Linked DNA regions of Homo sapiens: regions 2 and 3 are each linked to region 1. The links come from fine-mapping of genetic effects on gene expression. A gene starts in region 1. Each other region holds a variant in brackets. All regions are shown on one strand. Distances are from middle to middle.

Region 1 (8,176 bases):
GGCAAGAAGATCACTTGAGCCCAGAAGTTCAAGACCAGCCTGGGCAACATGGTAAGACCCTGCCTCTATTTTTTTTTTTTAATTAACATATAAACACTCTACTTCTGTTTTGCATCATGAGATAAGTACACATCTTATGCTAAGGATGCATAATAGATGTAGATTTTATTAATATGCTTCAGTGTTCTTCATGTTCTGGTGGATCTTGCTACAATTCTGTGTTGTGGATACCAAGCTTTTCTTTAAAAAAAAAACCTATTATCTTGAAAATTCTCAAAATCCTTGATTTCATTCTAGCACAATTAATTGTGTTCAGTTAATGTTGGTTGAATGATTGCACCACCTCCCCAGTTTCTGGGGAAATGTGTAGAGCAGTTCTACAGATGAGAACAGGAAATCTCAGAAAGGTTAAGTAACTTGCTCAAGGTCACACAGCTGATGAATAGCAGAGCTGGGGGTTGCATTGGGTTTGTCTATTACCAAATCCTTTGCACATTTGCTCCAATCAGCAAAAGGGATTCAGAGAAGATGGCAGCCTTTAACACTTGTGAGGGCAGCAGGATTCTGTGCTAAGAGCTCAAGGCTCAGAACCATCATCAGAAAAAGCAGCTGATGCTAATTCACCATCTATCAAGTTTCTCTTCACCATTTCCCGGAGACAGATTAAAGACATGAGCAAATTGTGCTGATGCAAGTGATAAAATGTGTGTGGGGGTGGGGTGGAGTTGGGGAGGGGGTTGGGGATGACACCACTGGGAGCCCAGAGCCACCTCCCTCCCGACTCACCCCTGCAGTACACAGATCTTTGTATAAGTCCTGAGTCACCCTTCAAATTTTTGGATAGTATCTATCAGCTTATGTCACAATGTTGCAAGATTATGTATCTTTTTTTAACAAACAATAGTATCAGCATGCTAGGGTGATTCTGAGCCCTTCTGACACATAAACTGGCTTCCAGGATTGCTCAACATTGCCCCATGCTGCAGCAGTCACTGCCGGCTGACCAGCCTTCCATCATCCGGCCAACCTGCCCAGCGTCCTGGAGGAGAGAAGGCCCACTCCCCAGGGGTTCTTCTGGGAAATTTAGGTCAGCAGGGTCTAATTATTCAACTGGATCAAGAGCTGAGATTTCCAGATTAACGCCGAAGGGGGGTGGGGTGGGGGTGCTGAAGACTTTTCATCAGGAACTGTCTTTCAGGGCCTTAAACATCAAAGCTGGGTCTCTAGCTCCAAAGTGCCCCAGTCTGCCCTGGAAGCTTCCCAGATGTTAAGAGGTGAGGCTTGGTGGAGTTCCTCTTAGCAAAGCTGACAACACCATGGCCCCAGGCCACGTGGCCGTAGCACCAGCCCCATGAGATGCCAGTGTCTGGTAGATGCCACACACACAGTGAATAATCCACCAAACAGGGCTACTCTCCCAAGGAGAAATGAACCCATCAGAGGCAGCTGTGATTTTCAGCAATGACTGACGTGGGCTGCACCCCATGGGCCTGTCCCAGAGGCTCTCACCAGTCTCCCAAGTAAACAACAGTTCTCAAACTGCAGAGTGGCTGGAGGGGGTCATATGCTCTTTTAAAATTATTATTACCTTTTTTTTCTTTTTTTTTGAGATGGAGTCTCGCTCTGTTGCCCAGGCTGGAGTGCAGTGGTGCGATGTCGGCTCACTGCAACCTCTGCCTCCTGGGTTCAAGAGATTCTCCTGCCTCAGCCTCCCGAGTAGCTGGGATCGCAGGCACGTACCACCACACCCAGCTAATTTTTGCATTTTCAGTAGAGATGGAGTGTTGCCATGTTGGCCAGGCTGGTCCTGAACTTCTTTTTTTTTTTTTTTTTTTTTTTTTGTGAGACGGAGTCTCGCTCTGTCACCTGGGCTGGAGTGCAGTGGCGCAATCTCGGCTCACTGCAATCTCTGCCTCCCGGGTTCACACCATTCTCCTGCCTCAGCCTCCCAAGTAGCTGGGACTTACAGATGCCCGCCACCACGCCTGGCTAATTTTTTATATTTGTAGTAGTGACGGGTTTCATCGTGTTAGCCAGGATGGTCTCCATCTCCTGACCTCGTGATCCGCCCGCCTCGACCTCCCAAAGTGCTGGGATTACAGGTGTGAGCCACCAAGCCCAGCCTGGTCCTGAACTTCTGACCTCAGGTGATCCACCTGCCTCAGCCTCCCAAAGCGCTGGGATTACAGGTGTGAGCCATCATGCCCGGCCAATTATTATTATTATTATTTAATTTTTGTGCAGAGTCTGTGTCTTGCTCTGTTGCCCGGGCTGCTCTTGAACTCCTGGGCTTAAGTGATCTGCCTGCCTCAGCCACCCAAAGTGTGGGGATTAAGGGCGTGAGAGCCACCACCTCCAGCCTCAAGTGATCTTTTAAATGGGAAGCACCCCTAAGCTGCTGGCCATGGCTGCCCACCTGACTAGTCTGGGTTCAACATTCCTAAACCGCTGGCACCTGGAAAGTCAGAATGCCCACTCAGGCCCGCCCAGCCCAGGGCAGTTGGTTGAGTCTCCGTAATCCTATTCTGAGTTCAAACAAAGCTAAACCAAACTGATTTTCAGCACCGTAAAATGAGAGACATCAAACTTTGTAATCTCACAGTTCAATTGGGTTCCAAGCTCTGGACAGCTGGCCTCGGGCCAGGCACTGTTTCCTCGCCTTTACAGTGAGTGTGTCATTAGTCCCACCCTCACTGTACTGGGTTATGGTAAAGACACAGTAACTACGGAAGCCCCGCTATTTGTTTCGGCTCCCCCAGAAAGGCTAACTCCTCACCGTTTTCAATGGACACTACACAGCGAGGGGTGGGGAATGCCAGGAGATTTTGCTCTCAAAACAGCAAAGTCTTTAAAATCTTCCCAGTCCCAAGTGACTGCTCTGTTCGGGGAAGGGGGAGGAAAATTCCTTGAACGAGCTAGAGCCACAGGACAAGTCCCCAGAGGCTGGGACCTGTTCAGGGAGCAGCCCTGCGGATGCCAGGTGCCCGCGCCCTCAGGGTCTCGAGGTCCGAGGCCCCCGTCCCCGTGGGCACCGAAACGCGAGCGGCCGAAACAGCGCTGCAGGAGGCTCCCTGGACCCCCGGCGGCTGCCCACTCGTCCCCGCTGGGCACTTCAGAGGAGGCCGGCGAGGCCTTGCTCGGGGTTCCTGGGACAACCCCACTCTCCGCGAAGATTTCTCCTTCTCGTAAGACCCCCGCCCCCACTCCAGCCTCCCACGGCTGCAACCCAGGCCCTGCGCCACGCGTTTCCCAAAGACGCCTCCGGAGGGACCCGAGCTTCGGGCCGGCAACACCAGGGCGGCGGCTCGGGAGAGGGCTGCGGACTAAGGGGGCGGAGGGGGCGGCCGAACCAGCGCCGGGCTGACGCGCCCCGCGCCCCGCGCCCCGCGCCCCCGGCCTTCCCTGCAGTGCTGAGTGGTCCGTGCGCCCGAGGTCGGGGGCGGGGCGGGGCGGGGCGGGGCAGGGACGGCCCCGCCCACCGGCGCTTTTCTCTTTTTTTTCACTTTAAAGCCGTCGGTTGCTTTTTCTCCTCCGCACAGAAGTCGCGCTCGGGCAGCCTGCGCGCTCGCAGCAGGAACCAGGCTCCAGGCGCCGGCGCCGGGGCCGGGGCCGCGGGGAGGAGGCGACTTCGCTCCCTGCGGCGGGCGCGGCCCGGGCGCCCGAGCCTCCTCGGCCTTGGAGAGCAGCGGCGGCGGCGGCACCCCGGGCGCGGTAGGCGGCGCGGGGCACCTGGGACCCCGATGGGTGGGCGACCGGCCCGGGAGGGGGAGGCGCGGGGGGCCGGGCGAGGGCGGACGCGGGGATCGCGCCGCTGGGGGACCGAGTGGGTGGCGCGGGGCCGGGCGCGGGGGAGCGGGTGGAGTACGGGATGGGGACTCGGGGCGCGGCCCCTCCCGCGGTGGCTCCGGGGGCGCCTCCCTCGCCGCGGCTCCTGGGAGAGGGGCCCAGGCCCGCCCCGCGCTGCCGCCGCTGCAGGGCAGGGGGTCCCGGGGCGAGGCGCGGCGGGGGTCTCGGGGCGCGGGGACCGTCGCAACGAGTTGCGGTCCCGAGGAGGGGCTGGGGCGCTCCGGGGCCGCCGACCCGTCCCCCCTTTAGCCCGGGGAAAGCGGGACCCCGCTCGGCTGAGTTAGTTTCGCTTTTCCCGCCAGTCCGAGTCGGGATTGGCGGCGCGGCCCGGTCCCCCGTCGGGGCGCCCCCACCCTCCCGCAGCGCCTCCCCCAGGGAGCCTGCCGGGGACACCCGAGCGCCGCCCTCCCCGCCGCCCCGGAGCCGCCGCGGCTTCTCCCAGCAGCGGAGGGAGAGCCGGAGGGTTGTCAGGAAATCGATTAAATCAGAAAAACAAGGGCGGCCTGGGCCCGCGGGAGGAACCGCGGATGGGTCACCGTCCCCGGGCGTGTACTGGGCTCGGTGGCGTCCAGGTTCCGGTGAGGACGGGACGGCCCCGAGAGGAGGGTGCGGGTCTGCAGGAAGAGCGGGTGTCTCTGAGAGTGCATCTGCGTGTGTGTTTGTGCATGTCCTTGTGAATATGTGCCTGCGTATGAGTGTGTCTGTGTGTTCATGTGGGTGTGTGTGTGAGTGTGTCTCTAAGTGCATCTGTGTATTTATGTGCCTCTGAGTGTGTGTGTGAGTCTGTGTGTCTGTCAATGTGTGCCTGAGACTCTAAGTGACTGTGTGTGTGTGTGTGTGTCTGAGTGCGTCTTTGTGTATTTGTGTGTGCCTCTCTGTGTATGTCTGTGTGTCTTTGTGTGTGTCTGTGTGTGAGTGTGTATGTGTCTTTGGGTGTGTGTCTCTGCAAGTTTGTGTCTCTGAGTGTCTGTCTCTGCAAATGTGTGTCTCTGTGTCTTTGTGTCTGTGTGTGTCTTTGCGTGTGTGTGTCTTTGTGTCTCTTTGTGTGTCCACACGTGTCTCTGTGTCTGTCTCTGTGTCTGTGTCTCTGAGTGCGTCTGTGTATGTGTGAGTGTCTGTGTGTCTCCAAGTGTGTGTCTGTGTGTCTTTGTGTGTGTTTCTCTGTGAGTGTGTGTGGGGACCATCCAGGGGGCCCTCTGGTTCCTAGGTACTGCTCCTCATGGTGATTTCTTTACTTGGTTCTGGATAGCCGGGCATGCTGGGCCACAGACACCCCACTAGGCAAGCCCTGCTGGTGCCCCCGAGGAGAGCGCAGGCTCTTCCTCTCTCCATTTCTCTGAAAATGAACTACACAGTTTGGGGGTGAGTTGGCAGGGGCTGCTTCCTGAGTGAGTAATATTTAATTAAACACTCCAGTCTGTAGCATCAGAAACTGGTCATGAGTTGAGTTTTAACAGGTGTTCATGGTAAAAGCGCCATCCCTGGTGACTAAGGTTTGATGTCCTTGGAAGAATTTTCTCGTTGGGGGGGCTGGGCCCACAACTTCATTTCTCATCGTGGGGTGTGAGGAGAACAGCAAGCAAGGAAGGGGATGGGGGCCTCTCCCTTCTGCCCTGTCCCCCTCCTCAGACCCCCCTCCCAGTGGTGGAAAGCCCTGGGCTAAGCATGGGCAGCACAGGTGGTCTCTCCACACTGAGGAATTTTGGAGTCAGGGAAGTCCTGTCTTACTGTCTAGGCCAGCCTGTCCTAGAGAGGCCCAGAGAGGGCGGTTCACTTACCCAGACTGCACAGCCAGGGCTGTGGACCAAGACTCCCCAGTCCTGAAACTGTTGCTCTTGGTTACTGTCCCCAGCACTGAGGTCATGGGCCAGGCACTTCGTGTCTCCCCAGCTGTGAAGTGATGGGCTGGATTAGATCATTTAAAGCACTCCTGCTCTCTTACAGCTGCTTTTCTTCTGCAGGGAGCACTTTACCCAGTAGATGGAGTGTGTGTGTGTGTGTGAGAGTGTGAGTGTGTGTGTGTGTGTGTGTGTGTGCGCGCGTGCGGTTGGGGAGGTGTGGAGTGGACTAAGGCAATCACTTTACAAGTCTTCCTTTTCCAGTCTGGCTACCACCCTAGCAGCAGAGAAAACAAAAGCAGTAGCATGTTGGCCCCAGTGGCTCAGACAGCCCCGAGCAGGGAGCAAGGCGGGTGCCATGCCGGCTTAAGAGAGACCTGGCCCTGGGAAGAATCAGTGGGTTTCAGGGCTCTTAGGAAGGGGTGGGCCTGCCTGGGGCCCTGGTGATGTCACTTTGGAGCTGGGTGAGGCCGTTTCTTGGGCTGCTGTAGTAAGGCTGGATCCACCCTTCAGTGGGTCCCTCTGGGCTGCTGCAGAATCTCACCCCCTTGGAATCATCACAGATGTTGAATTTCTTCACCAGAGCTGGGGAATGGGGTGGGGGCCTAGCCCGTGGAAGCCAGCGCTGCCCTCCCACCCCCATGGTGTGTGCCGTGCTCCCTTCCTGCACCTGCCCCTCCTCCTGGGTGGATGGAAACTTGCCTGCAGACGCATTTTCAAATTCAGCGAAACCTCTGATTCTTACGGTGTTCATGAGTTCGTCTGGGCATTTTGTATCAATTTTTCTCGAGAAATAGGTTGTAGCTGGTGTGCATGACTCAGTGTATCTTTTGGTTCTGAAAAATTTTATCAGACGACAGCACAAGGTCAGGTACAGGTGTGCCTCAGTCTGCCCAGGGGTGTGTTATCCTCTCCCCAGCCCTCAACACTAGATCAGTGAAATCCAGACTCTAAGGGACTTCGATTTTGGACTTTCAGTGAGTGCTCTCCCCTCCCCCAGTTATCTGATAACATCTCCCCCAGTCTAAAGTTCCACTGGCAGCCAGGTGCCCGGCTCTGTGCTACAGAGTGCTTTATGGACGTGACTTTGTTTGAATCCTAAGCATAATAATAGCGGGAAATGGTTTCATGGTTTCACGGTGCGTGCGAGTACTGGCTCTGATCTGAGTCCTTGACGCATTGACTCATGGGCTTCCTGAGGACCCTGAGAAGTGGGTTTTGCCTCCATGTCCATTCTGCTGAGGATTGCAGGTAACTTGGCTAAGGTCTCGCGGCAAGGGAATGGTGGAGCCAAAACTCGAATCCAGACTTGGCACCCAAGCCCTTCACCAGTAAGTTTGTCACCTCCACCACCTGAGCCTTTTCTTCAAGAAGCATGGGCTCATTTTTTTAGTGAAATTTTTTGTTATTATGGAAAATGTCAAACACACCAAAGTTAGAGGCAGAGTATAATGAGCGATCAGGTTTCCTCACCTCGCATGCACACACATACACATACTCACATATGCACATGCATACTTATGCTCACAGAAGATGTGCACATGTGTACACACACATACATATGCACACACATATATGCACACATACACACACACGCTGGATTATTTTGAAGCAAATACAAGATGTCAGGTCATCTGTAGCTTCTTCCTAAGAAGCATTTAAAGGAAGCATCACATCTCAAAGAGGTTGACTGTTACTCTATGCGGGGCAAGAGTCGGGAGATGTACGTCCTTTCTGACTTGGGCTTGAGGCTCCTTCCTTGCTTGGACAAAGGGAGGATGGCAAAACCCAACAGCACATTGGGGGATCTGTCCTGCTGCCAACCCCCTGAAACCTTTGGGAAGCTGCCTGTTTGCTTTGTGTTTTAAAAGTTCTGTTCATTGCCCAACGTTAAAAATAAATGAGTCCAGTGGTCATGAGACAGACCACATCAACAACAGGCTTAGGCTCTCGGGGCCTTTCTTGGAGATGGGGAAGAGAATCCGCCAAGGCACAGCCCAGCCTTGCCTGCCATTGAGGTCCAGACCTTGTGCAATGCAGGCATGGGATTTGTGGCAGGGCTGGGTGTCAGGAGATGTGACTGTGAGAATGGTTTGTCAACAAGCTCTGAATCTGACCTGAAGCTTAGCCTGACCCTCTTGAGTTTACTGCGTAGGCGATGGGTGGAGGAATCCAAGAACCTCTGCCACCCTTGGGCGTCTCTTGGAAAACTAGGGAGGCATTGGGTGATTTGAGCACAAGATGAAGAAAATATCAGGATGCAAACTCCACACTTGAGAAATGACTGCTGAGTAGGAATATAGGATTCCAGGGTTGGAAAAACCTACCTGTGACAAGGGCTTGACGGGTGCCCCAGTTGTGAACACACCTTGCCAGACAGTCAGAGTGTGGCCAATCTGGTCACACCCTTTCCAAGGTCAGAGTGAGGAGCTGCACTCCACACCAAGAGAACCACTTGAGTTTTCTAATTTATACAAGCAGACACCAAGGGA
Region 2 (8,150 bases), 72 kb after region 1:
TCTCCTGGAGGGCAGGAGTGGAGATGGCCATTGCTGAGTGGGGAGACACAGGGCCTGGCCTGACCCCGGGCCTGCCCGCCACCCTCCCTGGAGATGTGGAAAGGCCTGTTTGCAAGCAGCAGGCTGGCAGGCTGTCCAGGGGGAGCCCCTGACCTTGTGGGTCCTCTGGCTCTACCCCCACTGCTTTAAAGACATCTCCCACTGAGGAGGCATCTTCCATGCAGTTCAGCATTTTCGAATTTTCTTTAACGGCTCCCAGATGGGTTTGGTGTGGTTTGTCGTGGTTGAAGGTTCAGGGAAGGTCAGCTCGTCTCCTCAAGATCAGAGCCTCCTCCCGGGTGCCTCCTTCCTGCACTCCACTCCAGCTGGACTCTGCCGGGAGCTACTCATCGGGAGACTGATACACCGCCACCAGGGCCACCCACCCTCCCTCCCTCCCTTCCTTCCTTCCTTCCATGTCGGGGAGGGGTTGTCCCAGACCCTATTCCCCACACCCTCCAGAAGTTCTGGTCATATGAGGACCGCAGGCTCTCAGAGTTTGGGGGGGATAGGGGACCAAGGGTGTCTGATCACCTAGGTGGATCTCAGGCGTCCTTCCCCAGTTGACAAGGACAAAGGCTCCACGTTGTGTTTGGCTGTGCTCTTTCGTAAGAACTGCGTAGTGTAGAGGAAAACACACACACATCCTATGATGGCCACCCGACCCGTGACATTCTAGAATCCATGTCCTGGAGCGTGGTCCCCACAAGCTGCTTGCAGGGCCAGCCACAGGAGCCATGACAGCTGTCAGCGAGGACATTGCGGAAGCCGGGGCATTCTCTGATGCGGAACATTTTTCCTTGACCTCACCGTTCTGCAGCTCGTTCACTCAGCCCGTGAACTGGGCACAGCACCACACTCTTGAGGCTTGAGTTGGGTTGAAATCTCTCGGGGAACAGTGAGACAGTTGTGGGTTGGGGCTCTGGGGCTGTGCATGTTCACGTGGGCCACCAGGTAGCCGTTTCTCACAGAAATGTGGAAGCTGGTGCACTGTCTCTTCCAGTTCCTCAGGCTTCTGCTCCCAGAAATAGCGCCTGATTGACTTCCTGATTTCTTTGCTGCTCATTCAGCATTGCACTCTCATTCACAGAAATTATTTAAATGAATGAGCGCCTAAGCTTCCTGGGGATGGGCATAGCAGCCAGAGGCCCCAGGCCACAGTGCAGGTGCCCACCCCCTCGGTAGATTTCAGCAGGCACCTGGGTTTGTGGCTGGAGCTGGGTGCAAAGCTGGCAGCCCCCAGTCAAGAGTGTGGAGGTTGGGGAGAACTCCCTGGTACTGGTAGTGACCAGCTGAAATGGGGGCTGGGCATTTTTTCACGGCACGAAGCCCACGTCTGTTTCTGTGGCCATGCATTCTTGGTCTCTGCCCAGCCTTTGGAAAGCAGTTAGACCGGGCCCTATGCGCCATCAGTTTCCTCCTGCAAGATCAAGGAGGCGTGACCTGTTTATGTACTTGAGGACCCAGAGAAGAGACCCATTCACAGGATGCCTGGGTGACTCTGGTCCTATTTTCAGCTCATAACACATCACTGCAGCCATTCACTGCCACTTCTCTAGCCCGTCTTGGTGGATCCCATGACCCATCCCTAACTGGTTTATTCAGTGAGATCCAGAGATGGCCAGGCTGTGGCAAGTCCTCTACCCCACACAGCTGCGTTCACAGGGGATGGATTGTGGCAGCTGGAGGGCCTCATCCCTTTGGAGTCCATGGCTCTCAGACCTTGGACCTGTAACTCTCACCTCCCCAAGCCCATTTCCCTATCTGTAGGTTGGGGTCACAGTCCCCATCAGGCACACGACTGGTGCCCCACAGGCCATGGCTGGGGCTGGGGCTGCGGTGTCAGCCACTCAAAATAAGGCACTGGATGGAGCTGGGGGCTCATGTGGGCCTCTGCAGTTTTAGAAAATTTTTTTTTTTTTGGAGATGGAGTCTCATTCTGTCACCCAGGCTGTAGTGCAGTGGCGCAATCTCAGCTCACTGCAAACCTCTGCCTCCCAGGTTCAAGCAATCCTCCTGCCTCAAACTCCCAAGTAGCTGGGACTACAGGCATGCACGACCACACCCAGCTAATTTTTGTATTTTTAATAGAGATGAGGTTTTGCCACACTGGCCAGGCTGGTCTCAAACTCCTGACCTCAGGTGATCACCCACCTCGGCCTCCCAAAGTGCTGGGATTACAGGCATAAGCCACCGCGTCCAGCCTAGAAACATTTCTTCATGGGTTGATTGGAAACCCGTTACACCAAGAGGGTAGTGACTGAACTCCCTCTCAGCCCTCACTGCTGCAGCCTGGCAGGGCTCTTGGGCCACATTCAGTGGCTCTTGGAGCTTTCTCAGGTGCTTTCCAGCCACGAGGGAGAGCCCCTCCACTTTCCGGCGGGGGCTGAGCCACATTCTCCCGGGAGGGAGCTCAGGGCAGCCCAGACCCCTTGGCCCTGATGCAGGCCAGATGCAGGCGCGCTCCCAAGCAGAGAAGAGAACACACCTGCAAATTCCCCACTCCTCTGTGCAGAAGACCTACTCCCGACAGCCAGGCCAGACCACAGGCTGCGATAAGCACTTCTGGCCTTCAGGATCTTGGCTGCATGGGACTTTGGGGAGAATCTGGTCTGGATTCCGTGTCTTACAGATGGGGAAACAAGTCCGGGCAGACGGAGGGATGTGCTCCAGGTCAGGCTGCGGGGCAGGGTCTGGAGTCACCAGGCTGGGTGTTTTACCCGAGGGAAACCCAACCCTGTGAGGAGCCGGGTGGGTGGAACCCAGTCCCACCCCATCACGAGGGGTCTGTGGGATCCTTGACCTTAAAGAACCCAAGGTTATTTCATTCCTCCATTCGTCTCCAATCAGAGCTCCTCTTAATCATCCTAAGCTGGCCACGAAAGGCCCCCTTTCAAAATTCTCCATTAAAAATACAGAACATTTCAGTTCCTTGTCAGGAGCTGTGGCTGTGACCGTCCATGGGGGATGAAGAGCAGTGGTCCCTCTTCTTTTGTTTATTTATTTTTTCAGTTTTGGGGTTTTTTTGTTGTTGTTTTGTTGTTGTTGTTGTCGTTGTTGTTGTTGGTTTTTCTGAGACAGAGTCTTGCTCCGTCACCCCAGGCTGGAGTGCGATGGTGTGATCTCGGGTCACTGCAACCTCCACCTCCCAGGTTCAAGTGATTCTCCTGCCTTAGCCTCCCGAGTAGCCGGGACTACAGGCCCATGCCACCATGCCTGGCTCATTTTTGTATACTAATTTTAGTAGAGATGAGGGTTCACCATGTTGGCCAGGCTGGTCTTGAACTCCTGCCCTCAGGTAATGCGCCGGCCTCGGCCTCCCGAAGTGCTGGGATTACAGGCGTGAGCCACCACACCTGGCCTGTTTTCATTTTTGAGACAAGGTCTCTGTTACGCAGGCTGGAATACAGTGGCACAATCACAGCTTACTGCAGCCTTGACCTCCTGGGCCCAACCGATCCTCTCGCCTCAGTCTCCCAAGTCCTGGCTGATTTTTATTTTTTGTAGCGATGAGGTCTCCCTATGTTGCTCAGGCTGGTCTCAAACTCCTGGGCTCAAGCAGTCTTCTGTCCTTGGCCTCCCAAAGTGCTGGGATTACAGGTATGAGCCACTGTGCCTGACCTGGTCCCTCTTCTTTTAAAGCTTGGGGTTTAGTAAATGCATTATCAAGCCTAAGGTCCATTCTT[C/T]TATTTTGTAACAGCTTTACTGAGCTATAATTCACATACCTTACAATTCACCCATTAAAGTATCCAATTCAGTGGCCTCTTGCGTGGTGAGATGTAGGAAACAATTTTAGAACATTTTCATCACCCCAAAAAGAAACCCTATACCCATAAGCAGCCTCTCTCCATTCTGCCATGCCCCACCCGTAGTGTTTGGTCTTCAGTAATTGATTTTCGTATATTTGAGACACATTGGTGAATATTAAAGAACTTTAATCCACTTTTTACTGGTAGGATGGAGTTTTGCGGGTTCCTTTTAGTTTTGGGGGCTATTTTGCTCACAAAGGAGTCTCAAAGTCAAGGGGAGACCGTGGATGAAGCCTCAGATCCATTAGTTTCAGGGCTTTCCATCTGCAGAACAGCGTGGGCGGCCCCACGAAGGTCCAGGTGTGCTCACTCCTACCTGGTTTCAGGAAAGAGAGCAAAGAGGGGTCTGCTCTGGCGAAGCGGGCGAGCAGGGCCGCGCAGCCTTCCAACGCTCAGAAGCCTTGGAAGGCATGAGTTTCAGACTCCTGAGATCTGAAGCTGACGGCTCATCTGAGATGCAGCTGAATGAACTCAGCCTCCTTTGTAGGAAGGCAAGGCTGGGCGCTCTGGGAACACAGGATGGAGGTGCCTGGGAGGCTGCAGCTGGAAGCGCTCTGTAACCCTGGGGCCTGAGGCAGCTCTGCCCAAGTTCCCCTGGCTGTGAGAGAGCCCCATGTGCCTGGGGCAGTTGCGGGGAGAAGGCCCAGGCAGCTCTGGGGGATCAGCTGAAACTGGGCTGGCATTTCCAGTTTCCTGGGGCCTGAGCTTGGCCTGGGCCCTCAGCCTCACTGTCAGACAGAAGCACAGACACCCGGGGTTTCTCTGTCTCCATGTGGCACAGAAATGACACCTTCAGGCCGTGGGGCCAGCCAGGCCTGTCACGTATGATTCAGGACAGGGTTTGCCATGTCTTCCTTTGCAGCATGGTTAGTGGCTAAGGGCATGGACGCTGGGCCCAGGCTGCCTGGATTCAGATCCCAGCCCTGAACCTTGGCACACTGGGTGTCCCCTCTGTGCCTGTGTGTCCTCAGTTCTTTTTTTTTTTTTTTTGGACCGAGTCTTGCTCTGTCGCCCAGCTAGAGTGCAGTGGCGTGATCTCAGCCCACTGCAACCTCCATCTCCCAGGTTCAAGCGATTCTCCTGCCTCAGACTCCTGAGTAGCTGGGATTACAGGCACACACCACCACGCCCAACTAATTTTTGTATTTTTAGTAGAGACGGGGTTTCACCATGTTGGCCAGGCTGGTCTTGAACTCCTGGCCTCAAATGATCCACCCACCTTGGCCTCCCAAAATGCTGGGATTACCAGCGTGAACCACCATGCCCAGCTAGTCTTCAGCTTTAAAACAGAGGTGAGAATGGTATCTGAGAGCAGCTGGTAACAGAAAATGATTCCCTTCCTGAAGCTAGTGCTGGGGGTGCGTGCCAGGAAGAGCTGGCTCCCATGTGTTCCGACCGACAGGCCCCAATGGCAGCTGCTTGCCTGGACAGGCAGAGTCACCAGTGGGGAAGAGCAGGGATCGCCTGGGTTCGAATCCTAGCTGCATCTCCTGCCAGCAGGGCGACCCCTGGCAAGTCATTTAGACTCTGTCCCTCAGTTTCCTCATCTGTAAAATGGGGATGAAGGTAATGGTGTCTCTGTGACTATTAAGTCATTCATAAGAAACCACTGTGAGGATTAAATGAGTGTTAGCAGAGGGCTCGCCCAGGTGCCCAGCCCAGGGTGGGCTCCTGGTGGCAGCTATTCACATGCTAAATTTAAAATGAAAAAGCATTGCATTTTTCATTGTTTCTTTACTGATTTGAGTGAATACTAATCAGTGATAATATTGCTGCTGTGGTTAGCGCTGTTTGCTGAACACCCACCCAAGCTGCGCTGACCTGCAGTTTCTCTGTCTCCCCAGCCGAGCCGCTGCCGCTCATGGATTTGTGCCGTCGCTCGGTGCGCCTGGCCCTGGGGAGGGAGCGCCTGGGGGAGATCCACACGCTGCCGCTGCCGGCTTCCCTCAAGGCCTACCTCCTCTACCAGTGACGTTCGCCATCATACCGCCAGCGCGACAGCCACCTGGTGCCAACTCACTGAGCCGCCTGCCGCTGGGGCCGCCGCACCCTGCACCTTGGACCGGCATCCGTAGCCATGGACAGAGGTCCCTGGTCTTCCCTCATCCTCCGTGGCTGCCTCCATGGGACAAGGACCGATTCCAACACAGGCTCCTCTTTCCCCCTTCCCGACATCAGCAGAAGGCAGCATCCCTGCATGCCGTCCGTATACAACCCCTCTTTGAAAAAAGACACAGAGAATAAACTCCTACGAAAGCCCTACATTGAGCTCCAATCTGCTCGGGGTGGGACGGGTGCTTCCCACACCTCTGGGAGAAGGCTGCAGCCACCTGGGGGTCCCAGGGTGGTGGGGGTGGCAGGTGGTACCACAGCTCTGAGAGCAGATACCAGGGGTACTAAGAGGTGCTTAGACAAGGGCTGGTGCCCGGCCCAGGGTGCCCAGCGGGGCCATGCCATGGCAGATAAAGCTCAGGACGTCAAAAACTCACCATGGACCCCAAGGCAGAAACCAAGAACTGTCTGCAGGCAAATAAGCACCCAGCACCCATCCTGGCTGCCGGTGCCCCGTACCCTGTATTTATTCTTTTAACAATAACAAAAGCCATTTATTTATTCCATCTAGAAAGGAAACCCTGTTTCAGTCCCCTCTCTCTGGCTGTTCTGTTACTTTCCTTCCACCTGTGCCCTCCCTGGGATATGTATGCCTCGCCCGCCCTCCCTGGGCACATGTGCACACGTGCCCAGGCACAAGTATGTCTCTGGGTCCCTTGCCCTGCAGTTTCCAGGGGGCTCTGCTCCAAGTTCCCTAGCGGGCCCCTCAGGGAGAAATAGCCTCACGTGCAATCTGGGTGTCTTCGGGGGCCCGTCTGGAAGGGCTGCAGCAATTCCCCTGTGTCTCCAGGTAACCAGCTAACTCTTGGGCTCAGGCACCCTTGCACAGGGTTGCATTTCTTTAGTCTTCTGTGGGTCTTTTGATGTGGGTTTGATTTTGCTTTTGCTTTTCTAGCTGAGATTTCCCAAGTGCATCCTCAGAAGCTCTGGGTGTGCCAGAGGACCCCCAGAACTAAGAAGGGAGGGCGAGTGGGTCTCCATTCCCCGAGAAGCCGGGGGCAGGGTGGGATGGGGAAGACCAGGAGCAGAGTCGAGCCTCACAGAAGCCAGCGCGGGTCTCTGCTCAGCACCCCAGCCGGGGCTCTGGACCCAGGGTAACAGCCCCAGTTCATCCCAACCCCTCTCAGAGCCTCAAGAGGGGTAGCTCGGCTGCCGGAAGAGAGGGGTGCCCTATCCCTGGCAACCCCTCCACGTAGCGTACCCCAGCACCTGCCACCGCCTTTGCCATTTCTTTGAGCTTGAAGTTAACTCTCTTAGAGTCTAACTTTGGTTCATTTCTGCACAGGTACAATAGATGACTTTATTTGTTTAAAATGTTTAATATATATACATACATATATATATATTTGTCTGTAAGAATTATGTTTTAAACAGCTGCTGTAGAGTACCTTTTTTTAAGTAAATCTTACAGTGGAGTATATTTTTTAAAGCACAAAATTGGTGCCAAGACTGGGTGAGAAATGTACATTACCCCCTTATTATTTTGACGGTTTTTTTTTTCGGGGCAGGGGACCTTACCTGTAAGACTTTTAAAGATTTTCCTCCCTCCTGTTTCAGGTGGGTCACATTCTGATGAATGTTTCCCTTGTACAGATCCCAGCTTATGGCCTTGACCCAGCCGTCCTCACAGATGCCGGGTGACCCTCTAGCTCTCTCTGCATCTCCCACCCCCCGACACCCTGGGACCCTCGACCCCACCCTTCTTTCCTACCAGCCCAGAGCCTTGTGGCTTGTACAGTTTTGAAACTCCCGTTCTATTTTATGATGGTTGATAATAGTCAGTAACCTAATAAAGGAACGTTTGTTAAAATATCAAACCATTTTTGAATTCCTCGTTTGTGCCTCGGGGGAGGGGAAAGAGACATAGCTGACCCCTCCTGGGTCCAGCCAGCTCCACGGCCCACAGTTTTCAGCAGATGATGGGCTGACTCCCTACCACCCCTTGGCAGAGGGTGGGATGCCAGGCAAAGCCCCAGACAGAGAAGGAGAAGGAGAGTCCTGGAGGGAGGACCCCAGAACAGCCTCATCCCCATTTCAGAAGTTCCTCAGCCTGGCAGCCCAAGCTGCAGAAACTTGCCAAGTCTAACAGACAGTGATTCTGTGCCTTCGTGAGCGCATCAGGTTGGTTTGTGGGGTTGTAGAACTTGAGTTGACCGTGGGCTTTTTAGGAGCAGAGTGTGAGCCATTGTG
Region 3 (8,176 bases), 130 kb before region 1:
TTCCCCCTGGGTGGCTATTTTGGGAAAGCAGCTTTTCTCCAGCAGTGGACAGACTAGCTACTATGGACGCTGGAATCCAGAAGACTCAGAGCTCTGCCAGGGCCCAGCACAGGTAAAGGCACGGAGGACAGCCCTGGGAGCAAAGAGACAGTTTGCCCTCAGGTGCCCCTGAACTCCGCTCTGAGCACACACAATCCCACGGGTCCCTCCTGTCCCTACCCTTCAATAAGGATCACCCAGCACTTGGGGTCCTATCTGGCTTGGAAGAGGACGTGGGGCTTGAGGTATTACCCAAGGTGTTGAGGGGGTACAGCTGGAGGGGCAGGTGGCATCAGGTCTAGCGGCAAGGCCACTATTTTCCTGCCCTCCAGGACTGAGAGCCCTTAGCAGCCAGATTTGGCTTCTCTTCCCTTTCACTCCCTGGCCCCTGATGCCCGTCAAGCTCAAGTCGATACTGAACAACTGAGTACACAGCACAGCCTGGGTGTGAGGTCAGACTCTGTGCCTGGGATTGGGGCGGGTCAGGCATCTGACTCTGAGTTTCAACCACTGCTCAAGTTCAATCATGTGCTTCTAAGCTGCCAATCAAGCCAAACCTCTGGGAGTCACTGAAGAATAGAAACCGCAAGGCCAAGAGGAGGGTTGTGGTGCCCTGTGGTCTTGATAACTTGGGTTTTGAATGCAGGGTGGATGTTAAGATATAAAGCCCTTCCTAGGAAACCAGAAGACATCCTCCTAAGGAGGCAACAAAGCAGGGCAAGGCCCAGGAGAGGACCTGTGATGGAATTCAGACAGAGCCCAACCTCCCAGGGTACAGCCTTGTTCACGGGGCGCGGGAGGAGAAGGCTAACTGCTGCTGAGTGTGGCCAGGCAGGTCTTCAGCTACTGACATCAGGGCTGTGTCCACCCCTCAGAGCAGCACTGAGCTTGAAAGTGAAGCCCTGGCCGAGCGCGGTCGCTCACGCCTGTAATCCCAGCACTTTGGGAGGCCGAGGAGGGCAGATCACCTGAGGTGAGGAGTTCAAGACTGGCCTGACCAACATGGAGAAACCCCGTCTCTACTTAAAAAAAAAAAAAAAAAAAAAAACAAAAAAGTGAGGCTCTCTCTCAAAGCCAGCCCTTGCTCTGCTGCCCCAAGAGGGTCCTGCAAACACACGGGCCTTGTCCAAGGGGCCTGATGTGCAGGAGAGGGGCAGGGCCCAGGGCAGTGACCCCGAAGGGCTCCATCCTCGGACCTGACTCCTCCTTGCTCATAAACAACCAGGCCTTTGCCTTCCTCCCACACCAGTCCCCGGGTCAAAGGCCTTAAGAAAATCCCCGGTGCACTAGCCAACTCAGACCGCCCTGGCCCTTAGATCATCCGCTAGTCACTGGGCTGAGACCCAAAGGAGAGGGAAATATTTGGCGATTTCAGGGAACTGAACAGCAAAGGTGTTCACAATCAGACCACCAGCAGGAGTGCGGCACGCCCCTTAAACACTCTAAGGAAGTATTTACCAAGGCTGCTAAAAAAGAAGTTGAGGATTTCTGCCTCTGATTTAGTAGAAAATAATCTTTGAAATTTACATACAAAGTCCCATGATAAGTCATTTGGGATCCCCCAGAGGAGGAAGGCTGCTTGCGGTTAGACTGGGTGAGTCAACGAAACAAACAAATGGGCCCGATGAGGTCAGCTTTTTGGAAAAGGAACAAAGAAAACTGCACCCAAATGAGAGGCAGCTTACAATGGTGAAGCAGTGGTCACAGAAAATCCATTTCCAAAGCCTCTAATCCAGCAGTTTGGGGGATGATTTTGTCACCCAGGGGACATTTGGCAATATCTAAAGACATTTTTGGGGCCGGGTGTGGTGGCTCATGCCTGTAATCCCAGCACTTTGGGAGGCCGAGGCGGGCAGATCACTTGAGGTCAGGAGTTCGAGACCAGCCTGGCCAACATGACAAGACCCTATCTCCACTAAAAATGCAAAACTTAACTGGGCATGGTGGCACACACCTGTAATCCCAACTACTTGGGAGGCTGAAGCAGGAGAATCACTTGAGACTGGGAGGTGGAGGTTGCAGTGAGCCAAGATCGCATCACTGCACTCCAGCCTGGGTGACAGAGCAAGACTCTGTCTCAAAAAAAAAAAGAAGAAAAAAACCCAGACGTTTTTGATTATCACAATTGAAGGGTAGGGAGTGCTCCTGGCTTCTAGTGGGTAGAAGCCAGGAATGCCGCTAAACATCCTACAGTGCACAGGGCAGCCCCCACCACAAAAAATCATCTGGCCCCAAATGTCTGTAGCACTGCCACTGAAAAACTGTTCTCATCCACCGAGAACTCTCTCTCTCTTCCTTGCAAGTCCTGGGCAAAAGGTTGTTTTTAGTAGCCCAGAGGGCCATGGTGGTGACAGCTCCTCCCTGGGTGATGCCAGGCTTCAGGGGGTCAGCATCTTTGGAGGGTCCTCTAGGCATAGACCCCAGCTTGGGCAAGCCACTTGGCTGCCCCTGCATGGGTGACCCTGCCTGACTGCCCCTGGCTGCAACAGCCCCTTGCCGAGGCTTCTAGACCCTCAGAACCTCCCCCCTGCTGCTCTGGCTCTCAAGGTCCCACAGTAAAGCCACAGGAATGAGAAGGAGCGATGACAGTTCTCATCATCCCGTCATCGTCACAGCAGACTGGTAGGTGCTTTACAGGTGACAATGAGCTTTCACATTCGTTGTCTCACCTGAATACATAAAAGCCTCACCCACTGTTAAAACAATCTGAGTTCTTGACCTGCCAGACCAGTGGAACATGCAGAGGCCACCTGTCCCCGATGAGGGCCTGGGGGAGAGGGAGCCGTGCATTCATCTGGGGAGACCCCAGAGTCCAGAGCTGGGCAGAGGTGACAGCAGCCTGTCTAGGGGACCTGGGGGAAGCCAGGGTTCTGGCTGCTCCACGGCAGGCCCTGAGGTGGAGGGTCTAGACCCTGACCAGGCACCAGTCCTGCTGAAATGAGGCTCCGGAAATAGACGCACATCACACTCCCTGGAGTATTTTCTGGGCGGCCACAGAGTTCAGCAAATAGTCAACAGAAAGCATCTCCAAGAAGTGGGTGAACCGGAAGGACACATGCCCAAGGCTGATATGGGAGGTGTTTGGGGACTTAGGGAAGAAGCAGGACAGAAATAGGCCCAGCTCATTAACTGCATCTACATATGAATTGCTTGACTTTTTTTTTTTTTTTTTTTCAGAGACAGGGTCTGGCTTTGTCACCCGCTGAGCTGCAGCACAGTGGCATGATCATAGCTCACCAGAGCCTCAACCTCCCCGGCTCCAGCCATCCATCTTACCCCCTCAGCTCCTCTAGTAGCTGGGACCACAGGTGTGCACCACCATACCACGCCTAGCTAATCTTTTTTTTTTTTTTTTTTGAGACGGAGTCTCACCCTGTCCTTCAGGCTGGAGTGCCGTGGTGTGATCTCGGCTCACTGCAACCTCTGCCTCCCGGATTCAAGCAATTCTCCTGCCTCAGCCTCCCAAGTAGCTGGGATTACAGGTGTGCGCCACCACACCTGGCTAAATTTTTGTATTTTTAGTAGAGACGGGGTTTCACTATGTTGACCAGGCTAGTCTCGAACTCCTA[A/C]CCTCAGGTGATCTGCCCATCTCGGCCTCCCAGAGTGCTGGGATTACAGACGTCAGCCACTGCACCTGGCAACCCGGCTAATGTTTAAAACAATTCTTTTAGAGACAGGGTCTTACTATGTTGCTCAAGCTGGTCTCAAACCTCTGGGCTCAAGTGTTTCTCCAGCCTCAGCCTCCCAAAGTGCTGGGATTACAAGCATGAGCCACCGCGTCTGGCCCGTTTGAGTTTTTATGAGTATTATTACTTATTTTATAAATCTAAAAGAACATTAGGAAAAAATAAGAATAAGGGCAGAATATCTCGTATCCACACCCCCTTTCACGGGATACAGAGCCTTGCCTGCTTGGGAAACTCCTGAACTGCAGTCTGGGTTGCAACTCCATGCGTCATTCATCCTGGTTACCAGACCCTGGAAAACCGACGCCAAGTGAGACTCTGAATAAGTCAAAGGACAGAGACCACAGGAGACAGCTCCCGGCGCTAAGCAAACGCCTGTCTCCAGCAAACCTCAGGAAATGAGAGAAACAAGTCCACGCTCCAGCTGGGAGCCCCCTGCAGCAGGGAGGCTGCCCATCTTACACCCCTAGACCTCCTGCCTGCACTCCCCCTGAGTAGGTGGCCCCTGCCACTGCCGTTCCCCTCAGACCACGGCCTTTCCTCGGGAGAGAGGGTGGATGTGGGGAAACACCAGCTCTTCAATGTACCCTGGGAAGGCGGATCCTGGAAGGCCCTTTTGAAGTTTGAGCAAAGAATGGGAGGATGCGACCCACCAGGCAGGCAGGAGCCGCTGACTCCAATGCGAAAATAGAAACTGCTTCCCTGTAGCTTGGATGCTATTGCAGCTGGCACACAGAGGCTGTTAGGATCAAGACGAGGTTCTGGATCCAGTGCCTGCCTCTGAGGCTGCTCACAAGGAGGAAAGTCACTGCAAAAATGCTTGGCCCAGGCCGGGCGTGGTGGCTCATGCCTGTCATCCCAGCACTTTGGGAGGCCGAGGCAGGCGGAATCACCTGAGGTCAGCAGTTCAAGATCAGCCTGGCCAACATGGTGAAACTGGTGTCTCCAAAAATACAAAAATTAGCCAGGCGTGGTGGCACACACCTGTAATCTCAGCTACTCGGTAGGCTGAGGCAGGAGAATCGCATGAACCCCAGAGGTGGAAGTTGCAGTGAGCCGAGATGGCACCACTGCACTCCAGCCTGGGTGACAGAGTGAGACTGTCTCAAAAAAAAAAAAAAAGAAAAAGAAAAAGAAAAAAGAAAGAAAGGCCAGGCGCAGTGGCTCACCCTGTAATCCCAGCACTTTGGGAGGACAAGGCAGGCAGATCACGAGGTTAGGAGTTCAAGACCAGCCTGACCAGCCTGACCAACATGGTGAAACCCCATCTCTACTAAAAATACAAAAATTAGCTGGGCGTGTGACGCACGCCTGTAATCCCAGCTATTCAGGAGGCTGAGGCAGGAGAATCACTTGAACCTGGGAGGCAGAAGTTGCAGTGAGCCAAGATCGCGCTACTGCACTCCAGCCTGGGTGACAGAAGGAGACTCTGTCTCAAAAAAAAAAAAAAAAAAAAAATGCTTGGCTCACCTGGCAGCTTTAAGCTTGGAGCCTCCTGGCCACCTGACCTGCTCTCAATGCACACAAGGCACAGCCTCCTGGAATGGTGCCTGCACGCCCACTTTATCACCCACTTTCCAACCTGCAGAACTGCCGTCTAATTTTCCATTTACAACTGTTCCTCCACCTCAGGCCTCAGCATTGTTTCTGCAGCTTCAACTCCTTACTCCTCTGTGCTGTGAGAGCTCTGTGCTCCCACCTCTGGCTCTGTCACCCACAGCCAGTGTGAATAACTCACAAGGTGTCACCAAGACCTTCCACCTCCCCAGGCTCTCTGTTGTGCAAAAGGGATTCACACACCTAGAGACAGGGCTGGAGCTGGGTGGCCATGGGACTGACCTAGAGGGACAGCTCATATGCTCCACCATTCTTGAGGGCATCTACTTCCCAGCTAACATGTAAAGCAAGAAATTCAGACCAGGCACGGTGGCTCACACCTGTAATCCTAATGCTTTGGGAAGCTGAGGTGGGAGGATCTCTTGAGCCCAGGAGTTTGAGACCAGCTTGGGCAACACAGGGAGAGGCCATCTCTAAAAAAATATTTTAAAATCATCCAGGTGTGCACCTGTAGTCCCAGTTACTCAAGAGGCTGAGGAGGGAGGATCGCTTGAACCCAGGATTTTGAGGCTGCAGTAGGCTATGATCACACCACTGTACTCCAGCCTGAGCAACAGAGCAAGACCCTGTCTCTAAAAATAAAATAAAATAAATGCAATGTGGGCATAACATCATATTTTGAGGACATACTATACATTGAAAAATGTCAAGGAAAATGGATAGGTTGATAATATTCAAAATAATCTAAAGTGTGTGTGTGTGTGTGTGCATGCGTGTGTGTATGTGTCTTTAGTTCAAGAATATATGGTGCAGGGCTGAGCACAGTGGCTCATACCTGTAATCCCAGAACTTTGGGAGGCCAAGGCCGGCAGATCACTTGAGCCCAGGAGTTCGAAACCAGCCGGGGCAACATGGTGAAACCCTGTCTCTAAAAAATAAAAAAAAATTAAAAAAAGAATATATGGTGCAAAGGCAAATAAAAGCAATGTTTCCAGTGGGCTAGATGGAGAAGTCCCTTTGCTGCCTCTCTGGGTCACATGGGAGAAGCACAGTTCCCTGTAGCCCCCATCCGGGGTCCTGGTACTCTGTAAAGGCTGCCAGACCTGGGGGTGAACCAGTGATCTGGGATGCAAGGGAGCAGGCAGTGGAAGAGACAGGAGCCAAGCAGATACAAGTTCACCACACTGGGCCATGCGTTCCTGGAGGAAACCTACTTCCTTCCATCCACAGGGAAGGGACTCAACACAGAGTGTTTTTATAAAGAGTGTCAGGACCCAATGTCTGAATGTGGGGGGATAGCCCACGGCTGGCCCAAGGAACATGTGTGGACCACCAAGCGCTGTCCTCTCTCTTCCTGTCCCCATATAGAGATGATTTGCTTTCCAATCACATCTACAAGTACTCGGTGTCTTTGGCCCTTGCCTGACCCCTGGTTCATGGCAAAACCTACCCTTGGGTAAATACCAGATGCCCTGATGTGGAATGGGTTGGTGCCGCAGGAGACTCATCTTCAGTGGATTCTGCATTTGAATATGGAATACATTTTCTTTTCTTTTCTTTTTTTGAGACAGAGGCTCGCTCTGTTGCCCAGGCTGGAGTGCAATGACATGCTCTTGGCTCACTGCAACCTCTGCCTCCCGGGTTCAAGTGATTCTCCTGCTTCAGCCTCCCAAGTAGCTGGGATTACAGGTGTGCACCACCACACCCGGCTAATTTTTGTATTTTTGCAGACACGGGGTTTCCCCATGTTGGCCAGGCTGGTCTTAAACTCCTGACCTCAGGTGATCCACCCGCCTCGGCCTCCCAAAGTGCTGGGATTATAGGCGTGAGCCATGGTGCCAGGACTGGAATACATTTTCTATCTGGCTTAAGCCAAAAGAATGAAGCTCTAATGGCTGAATTTCAGCCACAAACCAGCTCACTGAAGGAGATTGGGTGGAGGCAGGCAGCATAAGGGGAGGTGTCCCTGAGCTCACAGACCAGGGCCCTCCTCACTCAGATGCTGGCTCTATGCCCCCCAGGCCTTCTGGGGCCAGCCTCTCTGCCTTGAGGCCCCACCCTTCTAGCTTCACAAGTAACTCTTACTCATCCTTCAGGCCTCGGTTAAGCGCCCTACAACCCCCCTCACTCAGCTATGGGCTCCCAGTGCCCACCCCAAGCATCACACGTCTCCCTGCATCATGGTGGCCAACTCGCTTGTACCTCCCTCTCACCAGACTGAGTGTCAGCTTCCTGTTCCTACTCCCAGCACCTAGCCCAGCAGACAGGACATAGTGAGTGCCAGTAAAGGTCTGTTGAGAAAGCACAGGAGGAGGAGTGGGCAAAAAAAGACGGGCAGCGCTGCCAGCCAGCCTGCGCTGTCAGCGGACCGCACGTTCCAATCCTTCAAGAGCTTAATGATCAGGCTGAGCCTCAGGTGTTTAGTCTGTCGTCAGCCCAGAAAACACAGGTGAGGCAGCAGATGGGAAAGTGCTTTAAAAACTGTAACTGGGGCCGAGCGCTGTGGCTCATGACTGTAATCCCAGCACTTTGGGAGGCCGAGGCAGGTGGATCACAAGGTCAAGAGATCGAGACCATTCTGGCTAACATGGTGAAACCCCATCTCCACTAAAAATACAAAAAATTAGCCAGGTGTGGTGGCAGACACCTGCAGTCCCAGCTACTCAGGAGGTTGAGGCAGGAGAATCGCTTGAACCTGGGAAGTGGAGGTTGCAGTGAGCCGATATCATGCCATTGCACTCCAGCCCAGGTGACAGTGTGAGACTCTGTCTCAAAAAAATTATAAAAAAACAAAACTGTAACTGCAGGGAGTCACACTTCCATTTCAGACCATCTTTGAGTACACCTAATTTTTTTTTAAAACTGAGACTTGCTCTGTCACCCAGGCTGGAGTG

The links.
Region 2: its variant is fine-mapped to the expression of SPSB1 in whole blood (INTERVAL, PIP 0.97).
Region 3: its variant is fine-mapped to the expression of SPSB1 in macrophages (Nedelec 2016, PIP 0.95).

Annotation. Positions count from the first base shown.
Region 1 is chr1:9,289,361-9,297,536 of GRCh38, forward strand. It overlaps SPSB1 (splA/ryanodine receptor domain and SOCS box containing 1), which reads left to right and starts at 3,534. Exons shown (of 3, transcript NM_025106.4): 1 at 3,534-3,711. RefSeq lists silencers at 3,199-3,368, 3,419-3,498, 3,569-3,638, 4,179-4,468.
Region 2 is chr1:9,361,756-9,369,905 of GRCh38, forward strand. It overlaps SPSB1 (splA/ryanodine receptor domain and SOCS box containing 1), which reads left to right. Exons shown (of 3, transcript NM_025106.4): 3 at 5,693-7,777. The coding sequence ends at 5,820. Among named protein-coding and RNA genes, the nearest start is that of LINC02606, 63 kb to the right of the region's middle. The variant C/T (reference allele first, on the strand shown) is at 3,726.
Region 3 is chr1:9,162,478-9,170,653 of GRCh38, forward strand. The region is part of intron 1 of MIR34AHG (MIR34A host gene); the gene reads right to left. Among named protein-coding and RNA genes, the nearest start is that of MIR34A, 15 kb to the left of the region's middle. RefSeq lists silencers at 228-297, 448-517, 2,288-2,337 and enhancers at 1,448-1,777, 7,055-7,556, 7,557-8,056. The variant A/C (reference allele first, on the strand shown) is at 3,609.